Regions from separate parts of the Homo sapiens genome. Here region 2 is linked to region 1. Evidence: fine-mapped expression QTL. Tissue or cell type: whole blood. Region 1 holds a variant in brackets; the other region holds the start of a gene. All regions are shown on one strand. Distances are from middle to middle.

What was found. PIP is the estimated chance that this variant, and not a neighbour inherited with it, causes the effect.
Region 2: it holds the start of PAIP1, and the variant in region 1 is fine-mapped to the expression of PAIP1 in whole blood (INTERVAL, PIP above 0.99).

What each region holds. Positions count from the first base shown.
Region 1 is chr5:43,923,210-43,929,499 of GRCh38, reverse strand. No RefSeq gene overlaps it. Among named protein-coding and RNA genes, the nearest start is that of NNT-AS1, 320 kb to the right of the region's middle. RefSeq lists an enhancer at 3,487-3,656. The variant C/G (reference allele first, on the strand shown) is at 3,044.
Region 2 is chr5:43,554,236-43,559,235 of GRCh38, reverse strand. It overlaps PAIP1 (poly(A) binding protein interacting protein 1), which reads left to right and starts at 2,159. Exons shown (of 11, transcript NM_006451.5): 1 at 2,159-2,654; 2 at 3,237-3,406. The coding sequence starts at 2,390. RefSeq lists a silencer at 1,864-2,723.

The DNA of each region.
Region 1 (6,290 bases):
GTCTATCTCTAGTTTTTTGTAGAGAGTAGAGGAAAGCTTACATCATTTTCATCATGAATGGTTAACATTACAAAACCCACAAAGACATCATCCAGACAAGAGGAAGTTTACTATCAATGAAATTGAATGTGTAGCTCAAACTCTCATTCTATGAAAAATAAAAAACAAACATAACAATACAAGCGGTGGCAAACCAAAAATGATGTTATTTGATGAGTTTACTATAAATTCTAAATAAAAGAAAATGGGAAAAAGCTGATGTAGCAGAGATAAGTATAAACTCAATACTCCTTGTTTTCCTATTACTTGCTTAAAAAGCAAATAAATATCACATTGTGTAACTGTAATGAAAATAAGCAAACATCAAATATTGGGAAAGATTTTTTTTCAAAAAGAAAATCCAAACTGACTTTCAACTATTAATAACTTGAGCTTCCCAATGGGACGGCTTGGTTTTGGATTCCTGCTGTTGTTGTTGTCATTGCTGTTTTTAAAAGATAATGTTATAGGCTTTCTCCATTAAGCAGAACAATCTTGTATGTATTCTCTGTCTTTTCTGGGAAATACTCTACCAAATTCCATTATTGATCATTTTCATTCCCTTAACTGGATAGATTACATTTTTTTCTTTTATTTTGGGTTCTGGGATATGTGTGCAGAATATGCAGGTTTGTTACACAGGTACACATGTGCCATGGTGGTTTGCTGCACCTGTCAACCCATCATCTAGGTTTTAAGCCCCGCATGCATTAGCTATTTGTCCTAATGCTCCCCACAACCCCCAACAGGCCCCAGTGTGTGTTGTTCCCCTCCCTGTGTTCATGTGTTCTCATTGTTCAACTCCCACTTATGAGAACATGCAGTGTTCGGCTTTCTGTTCCTGTGTTAGTTTGCTGAGAATGGTGGTTTCCAGCTTTATCCATGTCCCTGCAGAGGACATGAACTCATTCTTTTTTATGGATTCATAGTGTTCCGTGGTGTATATGTGCCACAATTTCTTTAACCACTCTATCTTTGATGGACATTTGGGTTGGTTCCAAGTCTTTGCTATTGTGAATAGTGCTGCAATAAATGTATGTGTGCATGTATCTTTATAGTAGAATGCCTTATAATCCTTTGGGTATATACCCAGTAATGGGATTGCTGGGTCAAGTGGTATTTCTGGTTCTAGATCCTTGAACAGTCGCCACACTGTCTTCCACAATGGTTGAACTAATTTACACTCCCACCAACAGTGTAAAATCATTCCTATTTCTCCACATCCTCCACAACCTGGCCAGCATGTGTTGTTCCCTGACTTTTTAATAATCGCCATTCTAACTGGCATGAGATGGTATCCCATTGTGGTTTTGATTTGCATTTCTCTAATGACAAGGGATGATTAGCTTTTCTCATATGTTTGTTGGCTACATAAATGTTTTCTTTTGAGAAGTGTCTGTTCATATCCTACATTAAATTTTTTCTGTTTTGTTTTTGTTTTCTATTTTCTCTTATCTTGCTCACTAAAGAATAGTTTTAAAATAATATTAGATGAGGTAATAGCAGTTAACAAATATTGAGTAATAATTACAAGTCAAGCATTCTTCCAAGCACCTTATGTATAATAAATTCATTTAATTTTCAGAACAATCTTATGGGGTAGGTGCTATCATTATCACTGTTGTAGAGATGAAGAAACTAAAGAACAGAGGATTTAAATTATATCCCAAGGCTACCTAGCTAAGGTGTTAAATTTCAAATCCACTTGATAATACAAGAAGACCATGTAGGTTAATTTTCGCTATATGATGAAATGAATATGTAAAATACAAAAATTCAAAGGTTATGTCAATTAAAAAAACACTTTTCAACAATGTTGAATTATTTAACTCAGCACTATCTTCTTTCAAATTACCACTTTCACATAACAATAAATTACACTAAAGTTAAGACACAAGGGGCTTCTATCTTCATGTCTTCAAACAGAATTTGACATTTTGTTTTAAAGACAACATCAGCTGAAAGTTTCTTCTAAGCAGAAGTGAATATGGTAAATTTCATACTATACAGAGTTATGTTCAACATCAGAGAGGTTTAAGAAACCTCCTCAATGTTCCTCAGGGACCAATTTAAAAAATAACCCACTTTGCAAGGATCTCACCCTCAACAAACCCAGTAGCAGCTTTTTCAGTAATCAAATAAATAGAGAAATAAAGTAATTCAAAAATGGGTAGGTACCCTTTATCTGAACAGGAGCAAACAAAGCCTGGCTGAAGACTACCCTCAGTAATACCTCTTCTTCACAGTATGAGCAGCTGATCTCTGAAATAAACTTGCTTGTGAAGATGCTTAAGTTAACCTCTGCAGAACTTCAGAAAGAGATTAGATAAAGCCCATTAGGAATGACGGTGACTCATCCTAGAAAATAAAGAGACCCACAGGAAGAGGTGATTGTGTATACAGGATACAAACACAAAGACAAATAGTGAAAGAAAAGCAAAACATTAAAGATTGAGCAATTCATTTTTTAAAAAGAATTAATAAATTAATTCAATCGTTGCAATCATCTGATAACCTTTGACAAATAATGATAAATGGTTAAGTAAAATAAAGGATTAAAAAAGTAATTTGTGAAAAATCTGACTAAGAAGTAGTATAATATTAAGTGACCGTGATAACTTAAAATGCATACTGTAAACACTAGAATAACCACTAAATAGACTAAAGAGGTGTAACTAATAAGGCAACAGAGAAGGTAAAATGAAGCACTAAAAAATCACTCAATCTGTAAAAAGACAATGAAAGAGGAAAAGAGGGACAAAATAATAGGCAAAACATAGAACAAAAGAAAAAAGAAATAAACCGCAGATTTAAATCCAATAATATAGAAAATTACATTAAATGTAAATGATCTGAATATTTGCATTTGATAATTAATAATTGTCTCTCTTCAGTGACATGATAATAAACATTGAAAATTATAAGAAACCTACAAAAGGAATACTAGTACTAACAAGGTCACAAAATACATAGTAAATATGGAAAATCAATTATGTGCTGTATA[C/G]TAACAAAGAAAGATGGGAAAATAAAATTTGAAAAAATACATATATTATAATAGCATTCAAAAGTTTAGGGATAAATTTAAGAAAACATGTGCAAGGCCTGTGCACTGAAAGCTACAAAACATTGCTAAGAGAACTTAAAGAGTACCTAAACAGATGAAGAATTATACCTACAAATTGGGTTTGGTGTATACTGCTCAAGAGATGGGTGACTAAAATCTCACAAATCACCACTAAAGAACTTACTCATGTAACCAGATACCACCTGTTCCCCAAAAACCTATGGAAATAAAAAAAGAGATATTGAAGATTGTTAATACGTCAGTTCACAAATTGATATGTAGATTCAATATGATCTTATTCAAAAATCCCAGAAAAAATGTTTTTTAATATTGGGTTTTTTTTTGGTTGCTTTAGTTGTTTTGCTTTTCAGTAGTAATTGAAAGGTAATTCTAAAATTTATATAGAAATGCAATGTACCTAGATTAACCAAGTCCTTTTTGAAAAAGAACAAAGTTGGAGCATTTATATTATCTGACTTCAAGACTTATTATAAAGCTCTGGTAATTGGAGCAATGTAATATTTTATTAAGCATAGACATATAGATCAACAAAAACAGAATAGAGTGTTCATAAATGGATCTATCAATATGTAGCTAATGGATATTCACAAAAGGTCCCAAAATAATTTAACGGTGTAAAGGTAGACTTTTTCAATGACTGGTGGTGCTGAAACAGATGGATATATGAGGGAGCAAAAGGGAGTCTTTATCTTTACATCATACCATACACAAAAATTAAGTGTAAAAAAATGATCATAGAACTAAACATAAAATTTCAACCTAAAAACTTCTAAAAGAAGACCTAAGAGAGATTATTATTGAATATTGGATTAGGCAGATTTCCTAAAACACAAACACACACACAAACCATCAAGGAAATAAAAGCAATAAACTAGTCTTCATCAAATTAAAAACTGGTGTTTTCAAAATACACTGTTAAGTCACTCCATCTTCTAACTTCAGGCTCTAAAAGAGACCTCTTCCCTCTGCTTGAGGAGAGGAGAGGGAGAAGTGGTGAGGACTTTGTCTTGCATTTTGGATACCAGTTCAGTCACAGCCAGATATGGTACCAATCAGAGATGTGAGGCCCCCTTTCCAGGACCTAGTTCCCAGATGGCATTTCCAGACACACCCTGGGCTAGAAGGAAAATTGCTGTCTTGAAAAGAAAACCCCAGTCCAGGCAGGATTTATCACCTGTTAACTGAAGAGCCCTTGAGTCCAGAATAATCAGCAGAAATATCCAGGTACTATCTCAAGAGCCTTGGATGAGACTGTCAGACTAGCTGACTTCAGGTGAGAATCAGCACATTCCCAGCTGAGGCAGATATGGGGCAAGAGTCCCTCCATTTCAGAAAAGTGGAGGGAAAAGTAAAGGAGACGTTGACTTGTGTCAAAGATACCAGCATGGCCGCAGTAGAGTAAAGCACCAAGCAAGATTTTTGGGTCCCTGATTCCAGGACTTGGCTCTTGGATGGCATTTCTGGGCCTGCCCTGGGCGAGAGAGAGGCCCATTACCCTGAAGTGTGAGTCCTAAGCCAGACAGCATTCACCATCAGTTGAGTCAAGAGCCCCTGGGTCTTGAAGGAATATTGGTGGTAGTCTGGCAGTGGTCCTGCATCTGCAGTGACAGTGGCCAAAGGATGAGGCTCCTTTACCTTTGGAAAGGAGAGGGTAAAGAGTAGGAAGAACTGCATCTTGTGGCTTGAGTGTCAGCTCAGTTGCAGTACAAAAGAACACAAGGCAGACTTCTAAGGTTATTGACTGTAGTCCCTGGCTCCTGATAACACCTCTGGACACACCTGGGGCCTAGGGGAACTCACCATCCTGAAGGGAAGGACATAAGCCTGACTGACTTTGCCACTTGCTGGTTATAGAGCCCCAGGGCCTTGAGTGAACATAGGCCATAACCAGGGAGTTTTTTCAGATGGCCTTGGATGAGAGAGACAGTGCTGTGCTAGCTTCAAGTCTGACCCAGTATAGACATAGTGGTGGTGACTACGGGAATGTTCATATTACTCCATCCCAAGTCCTAGGTGACTCAGAAGAGAGAGAGTGACTTAATTCATTTGGGAGAAAGTAAGAAAAGAAAATAAGGTTTCTACCTAGTAATCCAAATAATTCTCCTGGACCTCGTCCAAGACCATCAAGGCAGTACGTCTACAAGTCTGCAAGAACCACAGTGTTATTGAGCTTGGGGTGCCCCCTGAAGCAGATAGAGCATGAATCACAGACCCAAGTCATTTTGAATATCTGGGAAGCCTTCTCGAGAAGAATGGATAAAACCAAGCTCAGGCTGAAAAGACTACAATAAATACCCAACTCTTCAATGCCCAGATATAAATTAACATCTACAAGTATCAAGATATTTCAGAAAGGCTGGGTGCAGTGGCTCATGCCTGTAATCCCAGCACTTTGGAAGGCCAAGGCTGGTGGATCACTTGAGGTCAGGAGTTTGAGACCTCCCTGGCCAAGATGGTGAAACCTCGTCTCTACTAAAAATACAAAAATTAGCCAGGTGTGGTGATGGGCACCTGTAATCCCAGCTACTCTGGAGGCTGAGGTGGGAGAATCACTTGAACCCAGGGTGGGGAATCTGCAGTAAGACAAGATTGCACCATTCTTCTCCAACCTGGGTGACAGAGTGAGACTCTGTCAAAAAAAAATTTTTTTTCAAGAAAACATAATCTCACCAAATGAACTAAATAAGACACCAGGGGCCAATCCTGGAGAAACAGAGATATGTAACCTTTCAGACAGAGAATTCAAAATAGCTATGTTGAGGAAACTCAAAGAAGTTTAAGAAAACATAGAAGGAATTCAGAATTCTACCAGATAAATTAAATGAAGAGATTAAAAATAAGAATCATGCAGAAATTCTGAAGCTGAAAAATGCAATTGGCATACTGAAGAATGCATCAGAGTATTTTCATAACAGAATTGATCAAGCAGAAAAAAGAGTTGGTGAGCTTGAAGACAGGTTATTTGAAAATGTACAGTCATAGGAGACAAAAGCAAAAAGAATAAAAAACAGTGAAGCACACACACAGGATCTAGAAAATGGCCTCAAAAGGGGAAATCTAAGTAAGTAGAGAACTCTACTCTTTGGGTAGAAAGTTTATTCAAAGGGATAATAACAGAGAAATTATACAAGCTAGAGAAATATGTCAATATCCAAGTACAAGAAGG
Region 2 (5,000 bases), 370 kb after region 1:
AAGATGTCGTGACATCACCATGGATGCAGAATGGCCTTATCTTCACATGGGAAAGTCCCAGTTGTTAGAAAAGGTGCTGTTCATCATAAAAGTTTTAAGGGGAAATGAAAAGGTGGTGAGTGCAAACAAAAGCTTGGGGCAGAGTTGGGGCATCTACTTCAGTGGAACATAACTCATTGTTAGTTTTTTAGCATAGTTTATGGGTCTTTCCTGTATGATAAAAAAGTCCAGGCAAGAAGTGACTGGTGACCACATACAATAATGAATTTGAAAATATTAAAATTGTAATTTTTAAATTGTAATCTTGTCTCTGCAATATATGCTGAGTGTTACCACACAGTTATTATTTTACAGATGAGGAAAGTGAGGCTCAGAGAAGCTAAACCCCTTACTTACTCAAAATCACACAGACAGCAATAGTCAAGAGTGGAATCCCAACTAAGCTCTGGCAGACTGAATCCTAAACTTTCCGTACACCGAAGAGCCACACGTACTGCTGGCTTCCTTCCCTGACTTCATTATTTTGCCTAACATCAATAGCATGAACCATTTATTCATGATTGCCCTCGGTGAAGCCATTTTCTCATTCGTTTAGGGGAAGACATTGTTTTCTTTATTAATGAGAAGAGAAAACGGTTAACAAGAGTTTGTGTCCCTAATTGAAATGATTCTTAAGATGAAAAGATAGAAAAACATGAAACCCTGCTTAAAACAAAAGGCTAAAATCAGAATTTATGGAGATGGATCAATCCAACAGTAAAGAAATCAATTTTTCCTTCCTTGTCGTTACTTATATTCATCTATCCTTTATTTGGCATTAATACTGTCAGGCCTGACAAAAACAACAATTTACATATTAATAAAATCTAGAATTGTGCTGTGCAACGCAGTAGCCACTAGCCACATGTGGCTCTTGAGCCCTTGAAATGTGCCAATCCCGACTAAGATGTGCCATAAGTGTAAAATATACACTGGATTTCAACTAGTATCTAAAAAACAGAGAAAATATTTAATATTTTAAATCGCATGTTAAAAAACCATTTTGAACATAATGGATTAAATAAATTTAAATTAATTTCACCTGGTTTTTGTTTTGTTTTGTTTTGTTTTTTGAGACAGAGTTTGGCTCTTGTTGCCCAGGCTGGAGTGCAACGGTACGATCTCGGCTCACTGCAACCTCTGCCTCCTGCGTTCAAGCGATTCTCCTGCCTCAGCCTCCAGAATAGCTAGGATTACAGGCATGTGCCACCACGCCCGGCTAACTTTGTATTTTTAGTAGAGACGGGGTTTCTCCATGTTGGTCTGGCTGGTCTCGAACTCCCGACCTCAGGTGATCCGCCCCCCTCGGCCTCCCAAAGTGCTGGGATTACAGGCGTGAGCCACTGCGCCTGGCCACACCTGTTTCTTTTCACTCATTTAATGTGGCTTCTCCAAAATGTAAAATTACATAAGTGGCTTGCATTTGTGGCTCGCATTATATTTTCATTGGACAGCACTGATGCAAGATGAAAAAGAGGGCAGAGTTACACTGAAAGGTAGCACATTTTCTTGAAATTTCTGGAGGGGAAGGTTAACGGGAAGAGAACGAAGCTTGTTAAACGTAGGTGTGACCTACTGTGGTAAACACCTAGGGTGAATTAAAGAGGGGACACATATTTTGATTCCGTTTCTACTCCCTTCCCCCGATGCTAACGGAGCAGGTGACAGTCTCCCAGGGACCACTCCTCAGCAGTCCGCGGGTCTCGGCCGGAGCCGAGTCATTGAACACACCTGTGCGCCAGCGAACCCTGGCGCAGGGTCCACGCCCCCTCCCCCCGTGTTTTTATTTCCCGGGCGTCAACTGTCGGTCTCGCACGTCTCTCCTGAGAACTACCGAGTAGGTCGGGCCTGCCTGTGGTAAGCGTCCCCCTCACCCCTCATCCCTCATCCCCCCCAGCCTGGCCCCGGAACCGAGATGCCCCTGCCCGAGCCTGGCTGCGGGCCGGCAGGTGGCCAAGACGCCACTCGGCGGGCGGCCTGCTGGGCCCGGCGGCCGGCCAGCCGCGAACTGGAGGATCCTCGCGGGCGCGTCCCGGGCCTCCGGGCCGCAGGGGGCCGCTGTGACCCGCCTGCGCCCCTGCCGCGCCGAAGGCGGGGAGCCGGGTTTTGGGGGAGAACTGGAAAGCCGAGGGTAGCCGAGCGGGGCGGGCGCTCTGGAGCGGCGGGTGCTCGGGCTGCCGTCCGCTCCGCCAGAAGCACCGAGCAGCCGAGCCGGGGCCCGCCGCCCTCCTCCTCCATGAGGCCCGAGTGAGGCGCGGCGGCTATAGCCGACCCGCGGCGCCTTCCCCCCGCGTCCTATCGCGAGCGCAGCGGCAGCGGCCCCTGGAGGAGGAGGCGGAGGAGGAGGAGCATGTCGGACGGTTTCGATCGGGCCCCAGGTGCTGGTCGGGGCCGGAGCCGGGGCCTGGGCCGCGGAGGGGGCGGGCCTGAGGGCGGCGGTTTCCCGAACGGAGCGGGGCCTGCTGAGCGGGCGCGGCACCAGCCGCCGCAACCCAAAGCCCCGGGCTTCCTGCAGCCACCGCCGCTGCGCCAGCCCAGGACGACCCCGCCGCCAGGGGCCCAGTGCGAGGTCCCCGCCAGCCCCCAGCGGCCTTCCCGGCCCGGGGCGCTCCCAGGTACGGAGCAGCTCTAAGGGCCCCAGTCCTCCTTGGCGAACGCTTCCCCACGGCCCTCCACGCGTGCCGAGGCCCGACGCGCTGTCTGCGGTCCCCACCCCCGGTTCCCCGAAAGCATTCCCCGAGAGGGCCGCGTGACCGGGTAGGGACGGGCCCGGAACCGGGTTTGGAAGGTGTCTGCTGGAATCCTTTGTGCGCCTGGCTGGGGGGAGGGGCCGGGTGCGCGGTCTCGGAGTTCGGGGTCCCGGGAGGAAGTAAAAATCGCCTCCCCTCAGCAGCCCTCTAAAGCGAGACCCTAGCGAGTAACCACCTCTTTTCCACCGACCCCTTTAAAACGACAGAGAGGAAAAAAGCTCGCAAGCACTCATTTGAGAGGCAGGTATGCCCATAACGGAGTCACAGCAAGTCTATTGTTCCTTTTTGTAGGCTGTCTGTACACATTCCGGCGATAACCATAAATTTCATGATGGTTCCTGTTTAACTCTTAAAAACAGACGCTTTTCAGATGGTTTTTCAGTATATAGCAAGTTGCTGTACAAAGGAAAGAATGCATCTGACGCCCCGTTTTTTTTTCTTTTGCAGAGCAAACGAGGCCCCTGAGAGCTCCACCTAGTTCACAGGATAAAATCCCACAGCAGAACTCGGAGTCAGCAATGGCTAAGCCCCAGGTGGTTGTAGCTCCTGTATTAATGTCTAAGCTGTCTGTGAATGCCCCTGAATTTTACCCTTCAGGTTATTCTTCCAGTTACACAGTAAGTACACCCTTTTTCCTACAACTCTGGGTTAATTTACTGGAATAATGTGGTTGTTACTTTGTTAATCAGAGTATGTTTGTGCTTTCTGTACTACACGTAAAAAAATTTTTTTATTGTGAATGTTTTGAATTATTGAACTCAGAAGGAAACAAAGCTGATTCAGAAATACATTTTGTAGTTATATTCAAGGTATTAGAATGTAAGCTTGAGATACACATCTGTGTTCTTGTTTCTAGTGATTATTCCATTATGTTAAAATAGACATAGTTTTGATCCTAATTATTGTATGCAGAAATGTCCTACGGGGTTGTGATAAAGTATTTACATAGGTATAAAGAATGTTTAAACTTTCAGTTTTTCTTTGTCACTTATATAACAACTTTAAAAAATAGTCACTTTTCTTAAATAGCCGTACAAAGCACAGTTGGAATATGTAGAAAGGAATTTGTTGTACTGGATAAACCCAGATGAGTAAATGCATAGGGATTAATTATAGAGAAGTGGGAGGGAATCATTGGAGAAATGATTGATGATACTTTAGCTTAAATCCTGTCTTTCCTATCTTCTTAGTTTTATTGAAGTATAGCAGAGAATAGTGTACTTAAGTGTTAGCTCAGTCTCATAAAGTGAACACTCAACTAACCAGCATCCCAGTCAGGAAATAGAACATTATCAACATCCCGAAAACCCACTCTGTCTCCTTCCAGTTGTTCTTGATGTCCAAGTATAGCACTGTTTTGACTTCATAGGATAGTTTTGCCTGTGTTCAAAGTTTATATAAATAAAGTCATATAGAATATATTCTTTCTCACTTTCAATATCAAGATTACTCCATATTGTAGCATATAATTGGAGGTGACTTATTTTTATAACATTCCATTGCATGAATATATCCCATTTGTCTGTTGATGAACGTTGGTAGCTTTCACTCTTGGGTTATTATGAATAGGGCACATTTTGTGTCTTGCTGGCTGTATGCCTTTATTTCTTTTTGGTATATTACCAAGGTATGGAGTTGCTGGGACTTAGGGTAGCCAGCTTTAGCAGAGACTGCCAAGTAGTTTTCCAGAGATTGTTCCACTGTACATTCTGAGTAGTGTATGATTTCCAGTTACTCTGCTTCCTGGTCGGCACTTGGTATTTTCTGTTTAACCATTCTGGTGGGCATATAGTATCTAGTTGTGGTTTTAATTTATATTTCCCTTATAACTGATAATGACACACCTTTTTTATTACCTCTTTTTGGCTCTCCTTCCATATTTGACAGTAAAAGTATGGAAAAAGCTGTGTTCCATGTTTTAGATACTCCATGATTCTTATGCTGTATAGGAAAAAGCTTTGGGATTGGAAAGAAAAAGATACAGGCATAGCAGGAAAAGCAATTGATATGGGGTGAAAAAGGCCATCTATCGTGTAAGGTAGAAATGAGAGCATCTTGAGTTCTTGCCAGAAAATTGTATTTAGCTCACAGAGGAAAAGAACCATTAGAGCCACTGTAAGAGGTTGAATAAACTCTTAAGGATGCTTGTTCTAGCAGCTACAAGCAGGTTCCCATTTATTTTCTTCCCTATTGACTTGGGCTGTTTTATGA